Linked DNA regions of Homo sapiens: all the other regions are linked to region 3. Evidence: fine-mapped expression QTL. A gene starts in region 3. Each other region holds a variant in brackets. All regions are shown on one strand. Distances are from middle to middle.

Evidence for each region. PIP is the estimated chance that this variant, and not a neighbour inherited with it, causes the effect.
Region 1: its variant is the best candidate, but not a certain one, in a credible set for the expression of TRIB2 in whole blood (TOPMed, PIP 0.58).
Region 2: its variant is the best candidate, but not a certain one, in a credible set for the expression of TRIB2 in follicular helper T cells (Schmiedel 2018, PIP 0.50).

The regions. Positions count from the first base shown.
Region 1 is chr2:12,279,623-12,283,863 of GRCh38, forward strand. The region is part of intron 3 of MIR3681HG (MIR3681 host gene); the gene reads left to right. Among named protein-coding and RNA genes, the nearest start is that of MIR3681, 83 kb to the left of the region's middle. The variant G/A (reference allele first, on the strand shown) is at 2,590.
Region 2 is chr2:12,739,620-12,743,853 of GRCh38, forward strand. It overlaps TRIB2 (tribbles pseudokinase 2), which reads left to right. Exons shown (of 3, transcript NM_021643.4): 3 at 707-3,115. The coding sequence ends at 1,175. Among named protein-coding and RNA genes, the nearest start is that of MIR3125, 4.4 kb to the left of the region's middle. The variant T/G (reference allele first, on the strand shown) is at 1,781.
Region 3 is chr2:12,714,801-12,719,041 of GRCh38, forward strand. TRIB2 (tribbles pseudokinase 2) reads left to right here and starts at 2,136. Exons shown (of 3, transcript NM_021643.4): 1 at 2,136-3,777. The coding sequence starts at 3,508. It overlaps LOC124905974 (a long non-coding RNA gene), which reads right to left and starts at 1,958. Exons shown (of 2, transcript XR_007086222.1): 1 at 1-1,958. RefSeq lists silencers at 1,724-1,943, 2,034-2,093 and enhancers at 2,046-2,685, 2,534-2,603, 3,965-4,241.

The DNA of each region.
Region 1 (4,241 bases), 440 kb before region 3:
GGTTTGCCTCACGTCCTACATGAACTGGAAGAAAAATAGCCTTTTTAAGCCCGTATTTCAGTTTTCAGTTTTCATGGCACTCTGATGGGGAATGAAGGGGATGAAAAGGGGCACACCGACCTGCTTCCCAGGCTTCCAGCTGTGTCCATGAGGTAGTGGGCTGAAAGGAAATCCACGGCGCTATTATGGTATAATTTTAACAAGAAAAACACCTTTTTAAAGTTCATCTGTGCTGCCTTTATACAGAAAGCAGCGCTGAGGTTCCTGGAACCCCATTTGTGATAGGAGCCATTTGGGATCGCTTCATTGCAGGCATTCATCTTTCCTCTAGTGTATTTTTATCTTCTCTCAGGATTGTCCACAGAACTTGGACTGCAGATTCGTTAGGCAGGGACTGGGGCTGCTTTAAGTCAACATAAAATTCTGTCATATTGTCAGTGCTCATTACGTCTTCTATAACATATTGTACTTAGGGTCTTTTGGTTTTCAAATATACTACCATGCTATTTTTCAGCAGGCAAGCCTGGGCAGATATTTTCTCCATTGGTCTACAGATAATGCTATTTTCCATTTTCTGCCTTGGAAAACGTTGACTCTCCAATAACCAACATTTGTGAACTAATTGATTACAAATGTCTATGAGGTCAATGTTTTCCCGATTCAAAGAGCTATCAGCATTTTATTTGATATAACTTCCAAAAGAGAATCATTTTAGGAGTACCTGTACTTACTACATTGTATGAGAATTGTCTGTCACACACCCTGATTTCCATGAGCATGAGACCAGAGAGGTACTTTTCCCCTACAGTGGTTACAGGAGGTTGTACCATATGAAAATGTTTTAAACCATCTAATGTCAACAATTTCGAACATAATGATCGAACAATTACGGTTCGATCTAATACCACATGTGGAACATAGCAAGTAACAAATAAATATTTGTTGATTGGATGAATAGATGGAATATAGATGTCTAGGTATGCATTTAGCCAACTAAAACTTAAAATGGGAGGTGAAACTATTTACCCAGCAGCAGAAAATCACTCTCTTCATATCGGCAGCAAGTGGGCTCTTGTCTTTGGAGACAAAAACAAATCAATGTATTTTTGCTGCTTCAATTCATTCACTTGTTCATTCATTGACCCTTTCAGTAATTATTTAGCATCTTATGTGACGGCACCATGCCAGCTGAGAAAATGCAGAGAGCCCACTGTCAAATGTTGGAGATGGGGCAGTCACCAGTGTTGGCAGCACACAGAGGAAGTACATGCCATGGTAGAATTAGGTCCAGGAACCATGAGAATCTAGAGGACAGGCTCCCAAAACCGGCCGGCTGGTGTGGAGGTGACACATAAGCTGAGTTCTGAGATATCAGTTAGGAGGTATCTGCCAAGGAAGTTAGGGAAAATAGAAATCCTCCAGAAAGAAGAAACCACTTCTTCAAACACCTAGAGGTGCCACTTCCTGGTGATAGGAAGGTGAGCCCAGACTGAAGAAGGAGGCAGGAGCCAGGCCAGGAAACTCTTTTAAGGAGTTTGTATTTTATCTTGAGGGAAATGGGGAGGCAGTAAAAGGTATTAAACAAGGCAGTGACCTATTCAGCTTTATGTATTAGTACAGATCATCTGAAAAATGATTTGAGGATGTTTTTCAACTAAAAAGTGAACTAATGGGAGTTTTTGCTGGTATGGAATCAAATTTGTAGCTGATTTTGGTAAGTAGCAATTCTTTCCATCTTTATTATATTGGTCTTTTCATTATGTCAATTATATCTCTAATCATTTTGGAGTGGCTTTATGTTCCTAAGGATGGTTTCTAATTTGCACATTGTCCTGGGTGGAGGAGTGAGTTCAGATCACCTATACCAGCATTGCTGAAAATAGAAATTCCCTTTACCAGGACTTCAGCAATAGAAATATGTAATTTTTGTGAAAATTCTTTGTTGTATCTTGCTCTCCTTAAGAACCAGACATGAGCACAGGACCTAGGAAGATGTCATCTTGAGTTGCTTACATATTTGCACTGAAAATAAAAAAATCTTCCCTTCCCTCCAACAAGAACCCATTGCCTGAACAATGCTCTAGAAGAGCTATTTTCCAGCACACACTCATGTCTCTTCTCCAACACTCAAAGATTAAAGTTAAAAGAGTCGCTGAAAAGCTTTTAAACTGAAAGACAGAAAATAATACTTTCATTGCATTATTTTAAGCATTTATTTTTTTCTTGTTGTATCATTTAATTTTTAACGGTCTTTGTTTTTTATGGAAATATTTACATCTGTCTCATTATAAAAGTGCAATTAAGTTAGCATATATTTAGTAAATACCTACTAGGTAGACAGAATAATGCAGACATGTTGACAGGATGGCCTGGAGTAGAGAAGTTGGAAGGGAAGTTATGTATTTTGACTGACTTGAATGAGTTACAATAAAATCAGTGTAGTAAGCAGGAAAACAATTCCTTCACTAAGAATTGGCAGATGGGTGGTCAACCATTACTTCCAGATAAGTAACTACACAGTCTTGTGAATTTATTCTTTGATTTGTTCAACAAGTAATTACTGATCATTTGCCATGTGCAAGGTATTGT[G/A]CCATGTGCTGTGGGGGTTAGAAAAGAATCAGAAATGAATACTGATTTCTTTGAGTTAATGGCCTAGTATTACAGATAAATCATACACATACATGTCTCTGGCAATAGTCCCTAAAGCCTTTTGATCACTCAACACTATTAGGAAAAATATTTGAACATACAGCCCAATATACTATTTATTATAAATAATTTTATTGCATTTTGTAAATATACTTTTAAAAAGTAAGATACATAACAGTAAAATGATTTGTTTTTTCAACTCAATAGAATATTTTGATTAAAATTTTTTTATTAATACCATTTTTATTGAGAACAATATGATTGACTATGCTTATTTCTCAAGCATTATTTTAATTATTTGCACTTAGTGATTGAGAATCTGATTTTAATTTCATGTTATTTAATAGTTTTTAAAAAAATATTGTAGCTGAAAAGTTTTCTTTATAGGAACACATAAATCAAAATGGAAGAAATGCATCCTTGGCTTTTCTTTAAATATTGATGCACGTATTTTAGTCCCAATTACCAATTATGTAAAATTTTCTTTTTCCATTTTTTGCTTTTGAATTTGGCTTATAAATGTCAGCCTTTCCTGATGTCAATCAATTGTTACTGCAAACTCATCTGAAGATGTGACATTTTTTATCTATTTTAAAAATGAGTTTGAAATCCCCTAAAACTCTTCATTAGGAAGTACTGCCTAGCCCTGCTATTCAGCATTATACTGCTAGTCCTAGCCAGAAAAATTAGGCAAGAAAAGGAAAGAGAAACAAAAATAATCCAATTTGGAAAGGAAGTAAAATGATCTCTATTTGCAGATGACACGTTCTCTATAAGAAAATCCCAAAGAATATGCACACACACGCACACACACACACAAACCTACTAGAACTAAGTTTAGCAAAGTTTCAGGGTATAAGGTCAACACACCAAAATCATTTGCATTTCTATTTGCCAACAATGAACAATTCAAAAAGGAAATTAAGAAAAAAATTATTTACACTAATATTGAAAGAATAAAATACCCAGAAATAAATTTTAGAGAAGTGAAAGACTTGTACACTGAAAACTATAAAACATTTCTGAAATAAATTAAAGAGGAAATAAGTAAAAAGATAATCTATATTTATGAATTAGAGCACTTAATATTGTAAAGAAACTACTCCCTAAAAAAGATCTACAGAATCAATATAATCCCCATCAATGGCCTTTTTTCCCCTGAAATGACAAAGCTAATTCTCAAATTCATATGGAATTTCAAGGTGCTCCAAATAGCCAAAACAATATTAAAACAAAATAAAAACAAAATTGGAGGCCTCACAAATTTTCAGTTTCAAAACTTACCACAAAGCTGTGGTAATCAACACAGCATAGCACAGCCATAAGTATAGGCATATAGGCCAATGTAACAGAATGAGAATCCAGAAACAAACCCAAACATCTATGGCCAATTGATTTTCAGCAACGTTGCCAAGACCCTTCAACAAGGAAAGAATAGACTCTTAAATAATTGGTGCTAGGATAACTAAAAAACCATATGCAAAAGAAGAAATTTGGACTCCTTTCTTCACTCCAAATATAAAAATTAACTCAAAATTAATCAATGACCTAAGTATAAGAGCTAAAACAACAAAGCTGGTACAAATAACACA
Region 2 (4,234 bases), 25 kb after region 3:
ATTCCCTGCTTCCTGCCTGGTCCTAAAGAGAGGCACCTGGTATAGCAGAAAGAGCAGCAGCATCAACTTAGGAAGATGTGGGATCAAGTCTTCTCCATTTCCCAGCTAACAGGTTTGGGGAAGTTACCCGAACTCTCTGAGTCTCGATATTCTCATCTGTAAAATGGGATGTTAATATCCTACGTGTCTAATACAAAGGGCTGTAGTGAGGCCAAAATGCAAGTAAGGTGAAAGGTCTTTGTGGACTGTGGTCTGTCATGTTAGTTACACGTCTGCCAAAAGTTGTAGACAAAGCTGTGGGCTTCCTGGTTGGTTAGGTCTCGGTTTGAATTCTGTGGTGCCCTATCATTATGCAAATGTGACTTTGAGAAAGCTAGTTAATCTCTTGTTCCCTCATCGCAGGGGTGATGATGATGTGATTCATGGTTCGCTAAGGTGCTCAAGGTTTGAGCTCCCCAGTGGATTATCAGCTGCATGAAAAGACCTTGTCAGTCTTGTTCACCCATGTGGGTGTCCTCAGCCCTGGAATAGTAGCTGGCAGCTAGAAGGTGCTCAGTGAGTAATGTTTGGCTGGTCAGATGAATGCGTGAATGAATGAATGTGAATGAGGAGTCTTCAGAAACACTATAGTCGGTTATGTTATGATGCTGGTGGTAACGTGTCTCTGAGCACCCTCAGGAGCTTATGTTTTCCTCCTTTCTTGCAGGACTCGGGTCAAGCTGGAAAGCCTGGAAGACGCCTACATTCTGCGGGGAGATGATGATTCCCTCTCCGACAAGCATGGCTGCCCGGCTTACGTAAGCCCAGAGATCTTGAACACCAGTGGCAGCTACTCGGGCAAAGCAGCCGACGTGTGGAGCCTGGGGGTGATGCTGTACACCATGTTGGTGGGGCGGTACCCTTTCCATGACATTGAACCCAGCTCCCTCTTCAGCAAGATCCGGCGTGGCCAGTTCAACATTCCAGAGACTCTGTCGCCCAAGGCCAAGTGCCTCATCCGAAGCATTCTGCGTCGGGAGCCCTCAGAGCGGCTGACCTCGCAGGAAATTCTGGACCATCCTTGGTTTTCTACAGATTTTAGCGTCTCGAATTCAGCATATGGTGCTAAGGAAGTGTCTGACCAGCTGGTGCCGGACGTCAACATGGAAGAGAACTTGGACCCTTTCTTTAACTGAGCTCATGCCCCACGGAGACTTAGCAGGTTCCAGGAGTGAGCGAGGGCAGCGGAAAGGAGTTCTTCCGGGGGACACGAATTGCCTGGCTGAGTAGCAAGAAAGACACACTCTTAAGTTTCTTGGTTCAGAGCAGGAAAACCTTCAAGGAGCTGACTGACCACGTAGCATGGGGGCAAGAGGCGTGGGATGGGGATTGGGGTGAGATGGATGGGAGCCCGCTGGAGCTTGTCTTCCCTAACATAGCCTGGGAGACCACCCCTTGCCACTTGGGCCACTTCCGCCTACCCCACTTTTCATTTTGTTCCAAAATAGTTGCAGATCCTGACAGAATCAAAACTCTCTGCCTCAAACACACATCCTGGCATCGCACTGTTAGCATTTAACTTCTTGTTAGGATTCAGGGAAGGAACAGTTGGCCAAGAATTTTTTTTCTTTTAAACAAGCCAACCACCTAGCTGGTAATTAATGAGGTTCACTTAAAAAAAAAATTCGGTGCACACAGACTGACATGAAACCTGGGTGCTACAGTAAAAGAAAACAAAAGTCCAGTTTGTGTCTCTTAATCGCTCACTTCAACTCATTTCTTCTAAATAAACTATTTAATA[T/G]CCTGGTCAGGAAATGACATGTTAATGCTTTGCTCCCTGAAGGGGGAAAAAATCTGTCCTTTAACAAGCTATTCTGTTTTGTGTCAATTGGTTCGTGGCAGGAAGCTATTAGAAGTCAAACGTCCAGATGCATTACTGCTATCTTAGTTTAAAGGGGGAAAGAAAAGGGAAGAAGAAAGGAAAAGAGAAATCCAACTCCTTTTTCATGTTTTGCTTTTGAACAATGAGGGTTTGTGTGACAGGCATTCCTCTTTGCTGAGATGATAGCAATGGCCTGAGATTTTAGCAAGCTCCTGGAGTCTGATGCTTTTGCAGTACTCTGATCGCAACTAAACATTTGTCTTTGTTTTATTAGAAACTAGTGAAACAAAGCAGGTTGTCCCACATGTATAAAATACAGGGCAGCTATTTAGTTTTCTTTACAGAGAATGATCCTTTTAAGGCTTGTAAGGCCCTCTGGTTTGGACAAAAACCCTCAGTAGAGACAAGCGGGAAGGATAATTAGCTGAAAGCTATGATGATATAAATAAAAACAGCTCTCTATCCCAATACGCACCTTTGTATTTTCAAGAACTCTTCTATTTATTAAGGAAAATGTCACATTGTGATGTATTAAGCCAGTACTTCAATTACGGGTTGACTTGGGATGACATATTACATGCTGTAGTTAACATTTATAATTCTTTTTCCTTGTTTGAGTATTTCTGTCTCTGAAATAACCTTTTACTTGGCTTTTCTAGATAGCTTTATTTGATTTCGAGTGGCAAAATGTTTTTTATTACGGCTTTTCTATTGCTGTATGATACAGAACTCTTTTGGCATAAATATTTGTGTTCCCAGTACCTCACTTGTTCGGATTTGACTGCCTGTATATGTTTTGTGAAATGGTCCTGTTTTTGGGTAGGTGACACGTGGACTCTAGTATGTAAATGTTACTTGAATCTGTGCTTCATAATAGTGTGTGGCATGTATGTGCAGACTCTTGGATGCTTTATGCCTGCGCAGCAGGAGCCCTGTCCTCACGTTCCCAGGAGGGCGGCTTCACCCTTCGTAACCAGGAGACAAGGCGGCCATGGATTTGCCCTTGATTCTATTTTGCTAATGGAAGATAGAAAGGAGAGAAGGTTTTTTTTTTTTTTAACATTCTGAAGATGGTGCTGTGTCAAGAAGGACCTTTTTTTTCCCCTCTCCCCTATTTTTTAAGTACCTTGGAGGAGGAGAGGTTGGTGACATGCATGGTGGGGATCTATGGCCTCTGGTGCTTTGTCCTGTATTTGGTTTAATGTTTTTGTCCTAATCTCTTCAATCAATAAAATTGTGCGTATTTAACTAAAATGCTGGAGTCTGGAAAATGATGATTTTTTTGCCACCTGTGCTTTGTGGTCACCACACACCGGGCAGAAGCTCACATCTTACAGGCATTTGCTCTTTCAGGGTGAGCCACTGCTACTACTTTTAAGACATGGAATCTCCCTTTCATCGTATTGGGGCATATGCTGTCCAATCTGGATGCAATAGCTCACACTGAATTAATCGTCACAACAACTGTAGGTGACCTAACTTACGTTCCTAATACAGATTAGGAAATAAACCCAGAAATGTGCATGCCTTGTCCAGGGTTAAACTTGTGAGTGCTAGGCCCAAGACTGGACCCCATGTCTGGTTAGCCACAAAGCTTGTTTACTCTTTCTACAATGTTAAGAGTCCAGATGTTCTCAGGGAGAGTGTAGTAATAGCTCTAGAGTAACCAGGATTACGTAGGGCACAAGTAATCCAGGCCTACACATGGTTTCCCCAGGAAAAGCCCTGTGCTGCAAACTTGAGTGGAACCCTCCTAGGAGACCACCCAACTCCCAGCAACAACATCTGCCCAGCAGCCCTTACTTGAGTCTGAGATCCGCAAATATCAAGGTTGCTGGGGCTCGATAGACAGTCGCATCCGTAGTGCACCTTACTTAACAGAAATAACTACGGCCCAGAGAAGCTCAATTCTCTCCTGAAATGTTTGCTAAGCACCTCTGTTATTTCAGTGTGTGCTGGGAAGAGACATGGAAACAGACAAATGCAATGAGTAGAATCAAGTGGTGGGGTACACACACGCAGGATTGATGGAAGCCCATCAGATGGACAACTCCTGTCTAGGTCCGTCAGAAGGTGTCCTGGAAGGGGTAGCACCTGAAGCAGAGTCCGGAACGAAAAGAATTTAGATAATAAGAGAGACAGCAGCAGCACTCTATGCAGGGAGGATGGTGTGAGAAGTATTTAGAGACTTATCCCAGTTAACACCATGAATGCCAAGCCCTGGATGGAGTTCATAAAAGATCTTGCAAAGACTGGAGTTTGTGGTTTACAAGAGGATGTGGCTGAAGCAGAGGCTTCCTGGCCATTTGGACCAGTCTTCTAAATTCACAAAGTGCTTATTATTCAGTGACATCCCTTCTGTGTCCTTAGCAC
Region 3 (4,241 bases):
AAATATATTTTTCAAATCATTGTATCTTCATATCCAGTGTCTGGCACATAGTAGGTTTCAATAAATATTTGCTCTGGATTAGTTCAAGGTAATAAAAATCACATTTTCTGGGAAAACTCCCTGACGTTCAGGAAAAGTCATTCCCTCCTCCATGCTCCCTTGAGGCCTTGATATTCTAATTGCCACATTGTTACACAATGACATTATTTGTTTCCCAGTCTTTCTGCCGGGCTAGACCCTGCGCTCTTGGGTGGCAGAGACCAGATCTTACTCATATTGGATCCCTAACACTCAGCACAGAGCCCGGCTTATAGTAAGCCTTCATAGATTTCCTGGAATTGAAAATATAATTCTAAAGCAACCACATGAGGTGAGCAGGGCGGGTATTATGCTTCTCATCTTACAGATGAAGAAACAGGGATCTAGGGAGAAAAAACAAGGTCTTCACCCAATTTCCATTTGAAATCAGAGACCCAGCCAGGGCTAGCACACAGGTGTCCCAACCCCTAATTATTACAAAGCTCTCTTGGCCACTGCATAGAGGAGGCTAGGCACCTCTCTTTCTGACTCAACAGCAGGGGTTGCTTCGAGACTGTTCCTAACACAGGCCAAGTGTCTTCCTGGGGTAAGACTGGATTAGGGGACCCTGCTCGGTCAGTGGTCCTGGTGATCGCCTAGGGAAATAGATCTATTCTGCTGGGATCTGGGACTGAATCCTAGGCAGGTTTGTGGGGAGTAGGATGGTGAGAGGTGCTGGAAGGCACGGGTCCACTTCTTAACCTTCCTTTTAACTCTGTGCTGCTGGGTGGAAGCTTTATAGTCAATGTCCTCTCCATCTCTGGCCACATTCCCAGGACTCCTGATCATTAGAGTGACTGTTGTCCCAAGTGGACATAATTATAAATAGCTCCCTTCTTTTACTGAAAGTGTCCTACAGTGGACAATAATTTAGTCCCCTCCTCCAGTGGAAAATATACTACACGCATGCAAAAGCTCAGAGGGCTCCAGGAGTCGTCCCAACTCCCCTTTCTCAGTTCCTTGGGATTTTTTTTTTTAAGTTTGTCCTCTACTAGATCGCTTCTCATTCACCAGGATATCTTAGATCAAGGCTGGCGTTTGAAGCCTCTGCCTGAGTTCAAGCCCCTTGCTTCCGGTGTTCCTGTCCAAGCCCGCGGACTGGAATCTCCCAAGGAAGTTACGAATAATTCGGGGGGGGTGGCGAAATGGGGGGTGGAGTGGGGCGTGAAACTGCAGCCTTCACCTGGCTAACAGAAGAGGACTCAGGACGCCCAGCACCCTGGATAGGACCCAACAGCGCTCCCTGGAGGTGTGGGTGCAAAGTTTTGTCTAGCTTGGCCTCCAAGGCCCTCCAGGCAATGCACTGGGAAGGGAAGAATTAGTGATTAAATTTGACCTGAATCAAAAGATGCCTTCAGTTCCTCTTCTGCTGAAAACACTAGAAATACAAGCCCAGGATGTGGGGATCGGGGGCAAGCGGTGACACCAACTAAAAGGAAGCAATGGATTTCCTTTTAAATGGAGAGGAGGATGTCGGAGAGATACCATGAAACGAATTCTCGAAACTCCAGGCAGCAATACCGATGAAAGCGCATTCTTCCAAAACAGAGCTCCTCATTCAGGGCCACATCTGAGCCTGGGGGCCCAATGCTCAGAGCGTGCCTGGCTTTCTGGGGAAAAGCGCCAGGAACATGAACGAGCTACGAAGAGCTGGAGCGGGCGCTGCGGGAGCAGCGTGTGGGGAACGGCTCGGGAGTCGCTGCTGGTAACCCCGGCCCAGCCGCCCGCAGCTGGGCTCGCAGCCGGCTCGCAGCCGACACCCAGGGTGCTGCGCCCGGGGCCCCGGGCCGCGGAAGGATATTTCACTTTGTTTACCTCCCCGGCCGGGCGAGGGAGCTGCGAGGCCGGTGCTGGCGCCCCCGGCACGGAGCTGCAATGGCAGCGGCGCGGGGAGCCGCCCGAGGACTGGCAGCGGCGGGGCTGATTGATGGGCGCCCGGCGCAATGAGGGGGGCCCGGGCGGGGGCGGGGCGGGGCCGGCTCTGGGCTGAGCCAGTCGCGGGGGCGGCGGGGGGGGGGCGGAGGCTCCGTGGAAATGTGTCGGTGACATTGAATGGGGAGACCGAGCGCGAGCGAGGCGCGCGCGCGCACACGCGCACTCACGGCCCCGCTCGCTCCGAGATCCCCGGCCACGTAAGTAACTATTAATACCGCCTCGCCGGGGGATGCGGGCGTGCTGAGCGCGGGGATTGGCCTCGGGCACCGTCGGCCGTCCCCTTTAATTTTTAAATACACGGTCCCCTCTTTTCTCTGGGGGGGGCAAGCAAGAAATCAAAGAAGGAGGAGACAAGCCGTCAATTTTCTCCAAAACAAACCCCACCGGGCAATTTGGTCTCGGGGTAGGGGGAGACGGGGTGATTGCAAATTATTCCAGGACGAGATCCAGTTCTCCAGCGGGAAAGGGGCAAAGGAACGCCGCGCGTTGGAAGGGCCAGGGACGCAGCTCCCCTTGCAGCGCCCGCAGGACCCCCGCAAGCTCGTGCCGGCGAAATCGGAGACCGCCGATCTGTCCTCGTTCTCTCCTGCACGTCTGGCTGCATTCGGAGGAAGACCTGGGGCGCGAGCGAGCGGCGACAGCATGAGCCTGTGCTGACCTCCGCGCGGCGGGCCGAGCCCAGGGCTTTGTCGCGGTACCTGCGCCCAGCCCGCGCCGCAACTCTGTGCCCAGCTTTTGCAATCTTTTGTTGGCAGCGCTGACCGCACCAAGTTAAATGCTCCCTTGCAATTTTTCTTTTTTTTGTTTGTTTGTTTAATTTTTGGAGAGCTCGCGATCTTGGAAAAGCCTCAGACGCCATCTACAGTTAAAACGTAGGTAACTGCCCTCTCCCGCACCCCCCCCTTACACGCCCCCCACCCTTTCCACCAAAAAAAGGGGGTGCAGCGCGGATTCTGGCTGCCGTGCGTCGCCAGCCGGTAGACCCGTGCTTGTTTCCTTTCTCTTTTTGTTTGGCTTCTAACGCGTTGGGACTGAGTCGCCGCCGTGAGCTCCCCGAAGACTGCACAAACTACCGCGGGCTCCTCCGCCCCGTCTGCGATTCGGAAGCCGGCCTGGGGGTCGCGTCGGGAGCCCTGGCGCTGCAGCTCCGCACCTTAGCAGCCCGGGTACTCATCCAGATCCACGCCGGGGACACACACACAGAGTAACTAAAAGTGCGGCGATTCTGCACATCGCCGACTGCTTTGGGGTAACAAAAAGACCCGAGTTGCCTGCCGACCGAGGACCCCCGGGAGCCGGGCTCGGAGCAGACGAGGTATCCGGCGGCGCCCATTTGGGGGCTTCTAACTCTTTCTCCACGCAGCCCCTCTTCTGTCCCCTCCCCTCTCGCTCCCTTTTAAAATCAGTGGCACCGAGGCGCCTGCAGCCGCACTCGCCAGCGACTCATCTCTCCAGCGGGTTTTTTTTTGTTTGTCGTGTGCGATCCTCACACTCATGAACATACACAGGTCTACCCCCATCACAATAGCGAGATATGGGAGATCGCGGAACAAAACCCAGGATTTCGAAGAGTTGTCGTCTATAAGGTCCGCGGAGCCCAGCCAGAGTTTCAGCCCGAACCTCGGCTCCCCGAGCCCGCCCGAGACTCCGAACTTGTCGCATTGCGTTTCTTGTATCGGGAAATACTTATTGTTGGAACCTCTGGAGGGAGACCACGTTTTTCGTGCCGTGCATCTGCACAGCGGAGAGGAGCTGGTGTGCAAGGTAAAGGGCCAGTGGGTTGCTTTTTGTCTTTGGAAGGGGCCCGAGGGAGCGGGAGGGCGCCAGGCCCTCGAGTCTGGGAGAGGGAGATTCGCGGGATAATTACCGTGGCCTTATTAAATGGGTTTATTTATTTATTTGCTCAGGTTCGGTAAGTTGCGAAGTTTTTAGACCGTTTCAGACAATGGGGCGGGCGGCAGTGGGGGCGTTTCGGGGAGAGCCCGGGGAGGAGAGGGCGGCGGGACTGCGCGGGGGCCACGGACACGCGTGCACCGAAGGCTCCAGGAGCTCTCTGCGCGAGGCCGGGTCCCGCTGCCCGGGGGGGATTTCTTCCTGTGTCTAGCCCCCTCCCCTTCCAACAAGGATTAGGGAATCCCCCGGTAATTTTAAGACTGATGACTTCGTTCTTTTCGCAGCCATTGTTCTTAGCAGCGGGCAGGTGTTAAACCTTTGTTCCGAAGGTGCCC